Regions from separate parts of the Homo sapiens genome. Here region 1 is linked to region 2. Evidence: fine-mapped expression QTL. Tissue or cell type: fibroblasts. Region 2 holds a variant in brackets; the other region holds the start of a gene. All regions are shown on one strand. Distances are between the middles of the regions.

The links. PIP is the estimated chance that this variant, and not a neighbour inherited with it, causes the effect.
Region 1: it holds the start of SEMA4F, and the variant in region 2 is fine-mapped to the expression of SEMA4F in fibroblasts (GTEx, PIP 0.96).

Annotation. Positions count from the first base shown.
Region 1 is chr2:74,651,616-74,656,787 of GRCh38, forward strand. It overlaps SEMA4F (ssemaphorin 4F), which reads left to right and starts at 2,632. Exons shown (of 14, transcript NM_004263.5): 1 at 2,632-2,906; 2 at 4,919-5,070. The coding sequence starts at 2,762. RefSeq lists a silencer at 2,479-2,908.
Region 2 is chr2:74,581,186-74,587,102 of GRCh38, forward strand. It overlaps M1AP (meiosis 1 associated protein), which reads right to left. Exons shown (of 11, transcript NM_001321739.2): 5 at 489-662. Among named protein-coding and RNA genes, the nearest start is that of DOK1, 29 kb to the left of the region's middle. The variant C/T (reference allele first, on the strand shown) is at 3,139.

The DNA of each region.
Region 1 (5,172 bases), 70 kb after region 2:
TAGGTTGCACAATAAGAACCTCTTATTGTATGTTTTGTGAAAAAAATTGAAAAAATATTAAAAAAATCAAAAGACAACCAATAAGTCATGTTCAGAGAAGGGACTAAGGCCTAGACTAGACTGCTGAGAAGCAGCTTAGGAAAGGCATATAGTGGGCTAGAGGAAGAAACTCAGACGGGGGGCAGGGGTTCCATTGTGTTGAGGTTGGTTTTAGAAAGAAGATTTCAGAGAGAAGATTAGAAGTACTGATCCCAAATGCCTGATTTTCCCTCTAGGCTAAGCAATTTGAATTCAAGGACAATGGCTTTTTTTTTTTGGCAGGCTAGAGTGCAATGGTGTGATCGTAGCTCCCTGCAGCCTTGAACTCCTGGGCTCAAGTGATCCTCCTGCTTCAGTCTCCCAAGTAGCTGAGACTACAGGTGTGTGCCACCAGGCCTTGCTATTATTATTATTTTGCAGAGACAGGGTCTTGCTATGTTGACGTGGCTGGTCTCGAACTCGTCTTCAAGTGATCCTCCTGCCTCAGCCTCCCAAAGTGCTAGGATTACAGGCATGAGCCACCATGCCCAGCCAACGGACCATGTCTTAATCTTATCTCTAGTACTTAGTAAAATGCCTGGCACATATTAGGCCCTTAATAACTGTTGAAAGAACAAACTAGAACTAGTACTTGCACTTTAGAAAGATTATCCTGATGGCAGTCTGGAAGGGGAGGGACTGGAGGCTAGGTTTTTGTTTTTTAAATGAAATTATCACACAGTCCAGGTGAATGATGATGATGTCCTGAACTATGATGATAATGGAAAGAAAAGGATGGATTTAAGTTACTTTTTAGTCAGATTTATAAGGACATAGTGATTTCTTACATATGGGCATGGTAGCTAGTCTCCAAGAAAGGAGGCTGAAATCCTTGTATTCCCAGTGAAATCCCTGTACCACCTGGTGAAGTCCCCTTCCACAGTGCATCAGGGCTGCCCTGTGTGACAAGTAGAATATGGCCGAGAGATTGTGTGTTACTTCTGAGGCTAGGTCACAAATATATCATTTGCTCTTTTGCCTTGTTCTTTTGGATCACTTGCTCTGAGGAAGTCACCCCATTTTGTGAAGACATTCAAGCAGCCCCATGGAGAAATTCATGTGGAGAACAACCTTCACTTACTGCCAACAGCCACTACCAATTTGGCAGGCATGGAAGTCCGCCATCTTGGAAGTGGATCCTCCAGCCCCAGGCAAGCCTTCAGTGGACTGCTGCCCCGTTTGATATCTGGACTGTAATCTTGTGAGAGACTGGAAGCCAGACCACCTAGCTAAACTACTCCTAAATTTCTGACGCAGAGAGATTGTGAGAGATAATAAAAGTTTATTCCAAATGTCTGATTTTCCCTCCAGGCTAAGCAATTCGAATTCAGGGACCATGTCTTTTGTTTGTTTGTTTTAAGCCACCAAATTCTGAGGTTAATTTGTTACATTTGTTTTGCAGCCTAAATAACTAATACAATGGGGGTGAAAGAGGAGAAAGCAAAGACTACCTACTAAGTGCAGACTAAGTGCTTGAAGAAGGAGCTAGGGGCCGGGCGCGGTGGCTCACGCCTGTAATCCCAGCACTTTGGGAGGCCGAGACGGGCGGATCACGAGGTCAGGAGATCGAGACCATCCTGGCTGACACGGTGAAACCCCGTCTCTACTAAAAATACAAAAATTAGCCGGGCATGGTGGCGCGCGCCTGTAGTCCCAGCTACTTGGGAGGCTGAGGCAGGAGAATGGCGTGAACCCGGGAGGCGGAGCTTGCAGTGAGTCGAGATCGCGCCACTGCGCTCCAGCCTGGGCGACAGAGCGAAACTCCGTCTCAAAAAAAAAAAAAAAAAAAAAAAAAGAAGGAGCTAGGGTTGGGATGGAGGAGATAGTGAGTTATCCTCAGGACCTATGCTTGCCTTGTTTATAGGATATCCAAGTGGATATGCCCATAGGCAGTCTTTGTTCCTCGCCCTCAAAGGCCTACCAACCCTAGAAGAATCAGTTCAAATGTCACCTCTTCTGTGAGGCCTTCCTGATTTCCTCTGGCAAAACCTGGCCCTTCTGCACACTTATTGCACGTTATTATAGCAAACGTGCATTGCTTCGTATTGCAATTATCTATTTGCAGTTATTTGCTTACATTTGGAAGCCCCATTACAGTGTGAACTCCCTAGGGCAAGGGCCGTGATTTTTAGTATTTTCTGTATAATCGTGTGTGTGTGTGTGTGTGTGTGTGTGCGTGTGTGTGTGCGCGCGCGCGTTACACTGTGCCTGCCCAGCACATAGGCAGCCGTCCTTAAATGCTTGCAAAGTATTAATTTTGAGAAACTTGGTGCGTGTATCCACGTCCTCTTATTAGTAAGTTTTCCTTATTAGTACAGCTATGGGCGTTTGAGTTTTTGGAGTGGCCGGAGCAAACTCGCCACTCGAGGTCCCTGAGTGGCAGCCCCAGCGCACTTCCGAGGCAGAACTCCCACCTTCACCTGGGTCTAGCTCCGCCTCTGCCTGGGTTAGGCCTCTCCTCCCCTCAGCCCCGCCTTCACTCAATCCCGATTGGCTGGAGGAAGAAGGAGGCCCGACCATTGGCCCCTTTCTGAGGGGGCGGAGCCGGGCGGTGTTTCATCCCTCAGCCTCAGGCTGAGCCGGACCGAGCCGAGAGGACCCGAGTGGGGCCGAGGCCAGTAGCCCCGGGGCCCTGAGCAGAGGCCGTAGCTTGCGCCGCACCCGCGGCCAGGCGGAGCCAAAGATGCCGGCCTCTGCTGCGCGGCCCCGCCCGGGTCCCGGGCAGCCTACAGCCTCGCCCTTCCCGCTACTGCTGCTGGCGGTGCTGAGCGGCCCGGTATCCGGCCGCGTCCCCCGCTCGGTGCCCAGAACCTCGCTTCCAATCTCTGGTAAGGCGCGGACGCCCACGCCCTCAGCCCTTCGCGCCCACACCCACACCCACACCCACCTGCTCCTCAGACCGCTCGGCCGGACCCGGGCCTCTCAGCCTGGTGTATGGCGTTTCACGCCGCCCACGCCCCGCCGGGACCGGGGCGAGATCTTCGCACTTCACCGCATCCTCTCTGCATCCCTCCCGCGCCCCTCAGCCCCTCATCCCCAGCCCGGGCCTCGCGCCTCGGCTCCCACGACACGCCCAGGCTGCACCAGCGGGCCCTATTCCCGGAGCCGCAGGAGCGTCCAGTCCTCACCGTGCAGACTCGGACACTGAGGCCCAGAGCTCGGGTGGGGGCTGCCCGAGGTCGTTCATTTCGAAGTTCCGTCTCCCTTAGTCCCCTGTTTCCCCGCACATACACCTGGGTCCATCATTCCAGCTTGACGCCCACTCTGCTTTCAGACCCATCAGTCTTTCATTCTACTCCAGCTTTCCATTCCGATCTCCAGGTCAGCATTTCCATCTTCTCCAATTCATTTCCCTATCAGTTCTATACATCATCCGAGCCTCTTGGCCCTTCTGACAGCCCTTCCCGCTCCCCTGACATCTCTGACAGCAGCTCCCATTCTCCCATTATTGGATCCACGTTAACTCTCTTAACTTCCTCAGTGTTCCTCGCTGCCTCTGCCCATTCCCTACATTGAATATTGGTAAACCATTCAATGTGTTGATGTAAAGTTCTGCTTAAATGATTTTTCAAGTCTTCAGAAGGAAAAATAGAGGAGGGGGATATGATCCTTTGAAAAGATGTGGAAGAAGCTAGGAGACGTCACAAGGTTAAAAGTGATCATTGGGGCGATTCACATTTTAGACTCTGCTGAGGTGGGTATGAGCATGGCCGTGGACCTTGTTGTCTTCTCAGTGGGCATTGAGTGTTATTAGCACCTTGGGCAGACAGAACCAGTGAAGCCAAGAGTACAACCTGTTGGCAACAACTCTGGACTGGTTAATAGTAGTTTAGAGTTTAAATTCAGACTAGTGCCATATAGGGATGCTGTGATTCCAGAAGGCGAAGTTGTGGCCAGAGCCTGGGGTTTCAGTTTGCACCCAAGCAATAGCCACAAAGTAAGTTGAGATTGCCAGGCTGGGTTGATGTCCAGGCATCCAGAGATGTCTAGATGGCAAGCAAGGTGAAGCAGAGTTGAGGATGTGAGGGGAAGTTAGGTGATCCAGGGCTTATACTAAGCATGAGAGAGTGGGCACAGAGGTAAGTATGGGTGTGGGAGGAAGGAGTGGGCGGGACTCATCAGTACATCTAGGAATGAATGGGTTGGTGTCCAGTCTGCAGTCTTGAGGGTACTGAGCAGAGGAAGCAGGTAGAGCAGAGCTGTATTGGTGCAAGGGTAGGGTCCCCAGAACCAGAGGTTGAGCTAGGAAGGTAAATTCATGCCAACTTATTCCAGTCTTTAAATAGATACGAATTTTGAATGCTAATATGAGGTTTAGATTTTTTTTTTTTTTGAAGCGGAGTCTTGCTCTGTCACCCAGGCTGGTGTGCAGTGGTGTGATCTTGGCTCACTGCAACCTCTGCCTCCCAGGTTCAAGCAATTCTCCTGCCTCAGCCTCCCAAATAGCTGGGATTACAGGTGCGCGCCACCTTGCCTGGCTAATTTTTTGTATTTTTAGTAGAGACGGGATTTCACCATGTTGGCCAGGCTGGTCTCAAACTCCTGACCTCAAGTGATCCACCCACCTCAGCCTCCCAAAGTGCTGGGATTACAGGCGTGAGCAACCGTGTCCAGCTAGTGCTCTATTTTTATAGAAAAAGCATACTTACCCACTGGATTGTGTGCTAAATATTCTGGCCTCATCTATCTCTGGTTCACTTGTCAAGGCTGTGTTTCTCCCCCATGGCTGCTTAATAAATGGTACTTGGAAGAAAACAAAAATTGGCCCCTTTGGTTTTGCTCTTGTGGACTTGACCCTTAGGAAGCGATGGCTAACATCACTCTCCTCTCTTCCTGCCAGAGGCTGACTCCTGTCTCACCCGGTTCGCAGTCCCTCACACATACAATTACTCTGTTCTCCTTGTGGATCCTGCCTCCCACACACTTTATGTTGGCGCCCGGGACACCATCTTCGCTTTATCCCTGCCCTTCTCAGGGGAGAGACCCCGCAGGGTGAGAGACAAGAGAGGGAAGGACCCCTGACCCTGTAGCATGTGATTAAATCTATGATTTTATGAGTGTGTGTGGGGGATTTCATAATAACTAAAGATGTAA
Region 2 (5,917 bases):
TCCCTGGGGCGTATCTCTGTAGGTTCTTTAGTTTTCCCCCATTTGCTGCCTCCCTAGCGAGAAGATCTTTATTTAACCTTGGTTCTCTTCCTCTCGCCACAGGCTGTATTGATATTGTTGAGGTAGCAGCATGCTCCAAACTATAATGTCAATTATATTTACCACATTAAAAATGAGAATATTGAGAAATGTGATCCACTGTGTTCTTATGTAGTCTAGCCAATTCTCTGTCATTGAGGTGTCTCAGACTTTGCCCCTAAACTAACTGGCCCTTGCTGGTTGGGCTTAATTAGGTTCAGCTTTCTAACTATGATTGCTTCTTAGAACTTCTCTTCTTATTCCTCACGCTTATATTGGACAGCCTCATCCAACCCTCTTCCAGTCCCTAAACCTCAACGATGCTATATTCCACTGACTCACCACCAATCTAGAGTCCTGATCCCAGATAAGAATAATCATAGCCTAAATATCTTTTGGGGATTATGTACTTGGATTATCTCTGGGTCTGGAAATGTTGCTGAAACACTGTGAAGAAAGAAGAAGATGGATTTGTTCTTGGTCTGTTCCACTGTTATGTAGCCAGGCTTTGAAGAAAATCTCCATGCTGACGATATCATTGTCTATAGTCTGAAGGTCAATGTCAGTTCCCAGAATAGAACTCTCTGCAAAAGAAAGGGAAATAAAGTGTTCACTTAGATTGTAAATTTTGAGTAATATAAAATTTTGAACACATCCATCTTTTCTTTTTTGAGACGGGGGTCTCATTATGTCACCCAGGCTAAAGTACAGTGGCTATTCACATGCACAATCATTGCTCACTGCAGCCTCCAAATGCCTGGGCTCTAGCAATCTTCCTGCCTCAGCCTCCTGAGTAGCTGGGACTACAAGCACTCACCACCACGACTGACTAATTTTTTAAAAAACTTTTTTTTAGAGATGAGGTCTCGCTATGTTGCTCAGGCTGGTCTCTAACTCTTGGCCTCAAAGCAATCTTCTTGTCTCAGCCTCACAGGTAGCTGGGATTAGCTGGGATTATAGGCACTTGTCACTGGCCCAGCTTCCACACCTATTTTTTGATCCATTGACTGTATCTCTAGACATCTAGCCTAGAGACATTCTTGAGCAGTACACAAAGGCATATGCAAAGATGTTTGGTATAGCATTGCTGTAATAATAAAAACCCCAAACGGGAAGCAGTTCAAATCCCCTCAATAGGGAATATTTAAATTATGACACACTCAAACTATGGAGTATTACGTGTTTGTTAACAAAGCTAAATGTACTGACATGAAAAACTAGGAGATAGTAAGTAAATAAAGGAAGCTGTAGAACAGATATAACATGATCCCATTTATATAAAAATAAAACTATCTACATATATATATGTAAATGCATTTTACAAAGCTCTGGAAGGCTATCATCAAACTGTTAACAGTGGACAGGAAGTGGAAATAGGGCAGGGTTCTGAGATACTTTCCCTTTTTACTCTTCATACTTCTATACTGTTTGAATTTTATTGGAGTTGTGCATTTCTTGTGTTAAAAAAAATTCTAGGTGGGGCATGGTGGCTCACACCTGTAATCCCAGCACCTTGGGAGGCTGAGGTGGGTGGATCACTTGAGCTGAGGAGTTCAAGACCAGCCTGGCCAACATGGTGAAATCCTGTCTCTACTAAAAATATAAAAATTAGCCAGGTGTGGTGGCGGGCACCTGTAATTCCAGCTACGTGGAAGGCTGAGGCACGAGAATTGCTTGAATCTGGGAGACAGAGGCTACAGTGAACCAAGATCAGGCCACTGCATTCCAGCCTGGGCAACTCCATCTCAAAAGAAAAATAAATAAATAAATAAAATAAATAAAAAATAAAACATGGGAGAAAGAAATCCACTGTAAAAACAAACAAACAAACAACCCCAAAACATTCTAGAATATAAAAACCACCAAAAATTATACAGCAATGCAAATTAAATACTTAGTTGAACAAAGGGGACTTCAGCTTCATGTTATTTTACAGTGAAAATGTGTTCTATTACTACTTGTTATAAAAAATTAATTTAAAAAAATTAAAAGGAAAAAAGATGAATTTTGGGGTATCCCCTTATAGTAGAGAACCAAGCCTGGAGCATCAGTCATTGGCATACTGTATCTCACAAGTGTGGTTAACAGCAAAAAGGATGGGGAGGGTCTGGTAGAGTGTGATTTAATTCCAAATCTGAATGAATGGAGCTGGGTAGGTGGGGTAATGAGGCTTTGCTGGTGTACTTCCAGCTTCGGGCAACACTAGCTAAGGAATTGGGGCCTGGGTCTGCAGGTAAAGGTCATCAGTGAAAGCCAAATATGAGGTGGTGGAAGAAGCACAGAGCAAATAAGGGAAGAACTAGAAAGAAGCTGAGGGGGAACTCTACTTTCCTTGCTTCATCAGGAGGGATCTCTGAAATACTTTTACAAAGGGCCTAAGAAAAGCCAGTTGCTCCAATGAATTAGCTTCTGTGTATGACTCATAGACCCCAGGGAGAAGGCTGGATTATTTCTAGAATGACATTCCTGAGGACAAGTTTGCAGAGGTGGCAGACTTTCCACAGGGAACAAAGGGGCTTCAGTCCAACATACTTGTTCCAACACAGGGGAACTGTGGTGAAAATGACTTCATGTCATATTTAACAACTTATCCTGCAGCTGAAAAGGGGCATCAAATGCATTTCTCTATGGCCAGAATGATAAAAACTCTGCCATCTTCCATGAATAGTTATGAGGATTCATTGTTAACTAGTTAGTTATTTCATTCATTCCATCAGATATATCTGACACTCTGTGCCCTTATGGAGTTTATAAAGCAACATGAATCTTGACCATTTTTCCCCAAACTCTCATCTGCCTCATTATGTTTTAGGGTACTACTGTGATATATATAAAGTCATTGCCAAAAAAACATTCCTTGCAAGTAAAGAGAAATATCTTTTAAAAAAATAATGTGCATTTTATTTTGTCACAGGCAAAACAAGGAGTAATTTAATTTTTCTAAGCCTGAAGCCTGTACTTTGATTTGAGTAACAAGTATGAAAATGACTCAGCAGCTTCTCTTCAGTGAGGCAAAACAGTTCTTAAAGCATAAAGTGGCGGCTACTAAAGCAATGCAAC[C/T]GAGGCCAGGCATGGTGGCTCATGCCTGTAGTCCCAGCTACTTAGAAGTCTGAGGCAGGAGGACAGCTTGAGCCCAAAAGTTCAAGACCCACCTGGGCAACATAGTGAGACACTGTCTCAGTTGCAAAAAAAAAAAAAAAAAGAAAAAGAAACAGAATTGAGCAAAGGAGCTAAGAAAAGTAGAGAAGATAAACTTGCTGAGTTGAAATAACAGAATTTTTGGGAAAAGAAGTAAGTGTTTCTTTTCTTCTCCCCAGGGAAAGGGTGGATGATGAGACACTCCTACCACAGGCAATGTGAGGGAGCAATGCAAAGCCATGTCCCATCAAGAATCTGGAAGTAAGGAAAATAAAGGTTTCCTCAGAGAGTTAAACTATAAAATCAACCAGAATGGTGAGGCCAATGAAAAAGTTACCCTAAGAAGGCAGAATGGCTTATTGTCCAAGGCAAGATTTGGCTGTAGCCTTATTGATGTTATTGCCATATATATATATATATATATATATTTTATTATTATTTTTTTATTTTATTTTTTTTGAGATGGGGTCTCACTCTGTCACCCATGTTGGAGTGCAGTGGTGTGATCTCAGCTCTCTGCAACCTTCACCTCCTGGGCTCAAGTGACTCTCCTGCCTCGGCCTCCCAAGTAGCTGGGAGTACAGGTGTGAGCCACCACACCTGGCTAATTTTTGTATTTTTTGTAGAGATGGGGTTTTACCATGTTGCTCAGGGTGGTCTCAAACTCCTGAGCTCAAGTAATCCATCTGCCTTGACCTCCCAAAATGCTAGGATTGCAGGTGTGAGCCACCTTGCCCAGCCTATATTGGCATATCTAAAGAATGAATGTGTCTATTGGAAGGGGAGAGGGTTGGCCAGAAATGCAGCACAGAGAAGGGGAACAGCGATGCGTGCTGGCAGTGCCCATCTTAAGTGCAGCTCAGAGAAGGCATGTGGACTCAGTGATGTGTCCCAATTGCAGAGATGTGTTTGTCAAGTCTCTGCTCTTTTTTGTGATTATGGTTATGGTTCTCCCTCTAAAACATTCTGGCTTATCCTTTAGTCTTGAGCTTAGGAAGGTGCGTGTTTTGCTGGCAAAATTAACTTTCTGATCCTGCGAAGCTAAAGAACCAGGCTTGAAGCACAGCCTCTCTATGAAGGAAAATGTCATGTGGTTAGGTCCTCCTGGCAGCCAGCCAGGCAGCAGTCTTCCCTGTTGTCACCCATCGATGTTCTGACATTCTTTTCTAACTTCTTAACCTACATGTTCTTGGAAGAGCCATGAAGCAGAACTGATTTCTTGAAAAAGTCCTCATATAATCTCCACAGAGGTGCTGTGTGTCGGGTTTGAGCTTTCAGTTTTGCAGTTTCAGAAGGGAGTGAGCACCTCTTGGGGGCAGACTTACATTATCCAAACTAGAGACTTATGTGTAAACCAGAACATTTTAGAGGCTAAACTTTTTTTCCATTTTCTTTGTCATTCTAGGAATTCATTTCCTTGTCCCTGATTATGGCAGTAGCTTCTTAACTGTCCTAGCAAACTCCATTTCTTCCCCTCCATTACTTATTATTACTACTACCAGTTACTTTTTCTGAAACATGGTTTCATCAGATCCCTCCTTTGCTCAAGAGCACACACTGCCTTCTTGTTGTCACTCACTCATCCTGTATCACTTGGTACTACTCATTATTCTACAAGTACCCTACCCTTCCCTTCCTCTGTGATGGCTCAGACTATTTCCTCCTCATCACTACCTGTTGAGATATTGCCATCCTTGAAGACCGAGTTCAAATGTCACCTCCTTCATGAAGTCTGCCATTATTGTATTCCTTCCATTATTATAGTCCCATAGCTTTTGGTTTACATTTGTAATATAGTTCACATTACATTTTACCTTAGTACTATTGTTATTTGGGAATACGTTTGATCTCTCCCATTTAAATGTAAATTAAAAGGTGGGAATTGTTTCTTTTCACTTTTATCCTCCCTATCAGGGCCTTGTATAGAGCTGAAGCTTAGCAAATGCCTGAGTTGAACAGTGACTCCCTCCTCCTCAGCTCTCATTACTTTTTCCTGTAACTCTTGAGCTTCATCTAAGTTAGTCTCCTTGCCACATGACTTCCTTCCTTCCTTAGTGCTTTCATTAATGTTAGCCCATGGCCTGCACCTCTTCCAGAATTCAACTCAGGACTGACTTTGTCCAAGAAGTTATGCTTAACTATATCCTCCCTTATCTAGCTTTAATTGCCATCCCTGGGTATCTGTGGGCTTCATTTGGGCAATATTAATCGCACTGCTGATTTATTTTTTTTTAAAGGATTTTCTTCTCTTTTCCTGAGTTTATGAAAGGCTTAATGGAAAGACCAGGGTTTGACTTGAGAATTAAAAGTTGTTAGCAGCCGGGCACGGTGGCTCACGCCTGTAATCCCAGCACTTTGGGAGGCTGAGGCGGGCAGATCACCTAAAGTCGGGAGTTTGAGACCAGCCTGACCAACATGGAGAAACCCGGTCTCCACTAAAAATACAAAAAATTAGCCAGGTGTGGTGGTGCATGCCTGTAATCCCAGCTACTTGGGAGGCTGAGGCAGGAGAATCGCTTGAACCTGGGAGGTGGAGGTTGCAGTGAACTGAGATCGCGCCATTGCACACTAGCCTGGGCAACAAGAGCGAAACTCCATTTCAAAAAAAAAAAAAAAATTTGTTAGCTATGTGATTTTGGGCGAAGTGGAATAGTACAACATATTTCTTAGTAAAGCACTACAAAGCGAGATGATTATCTAT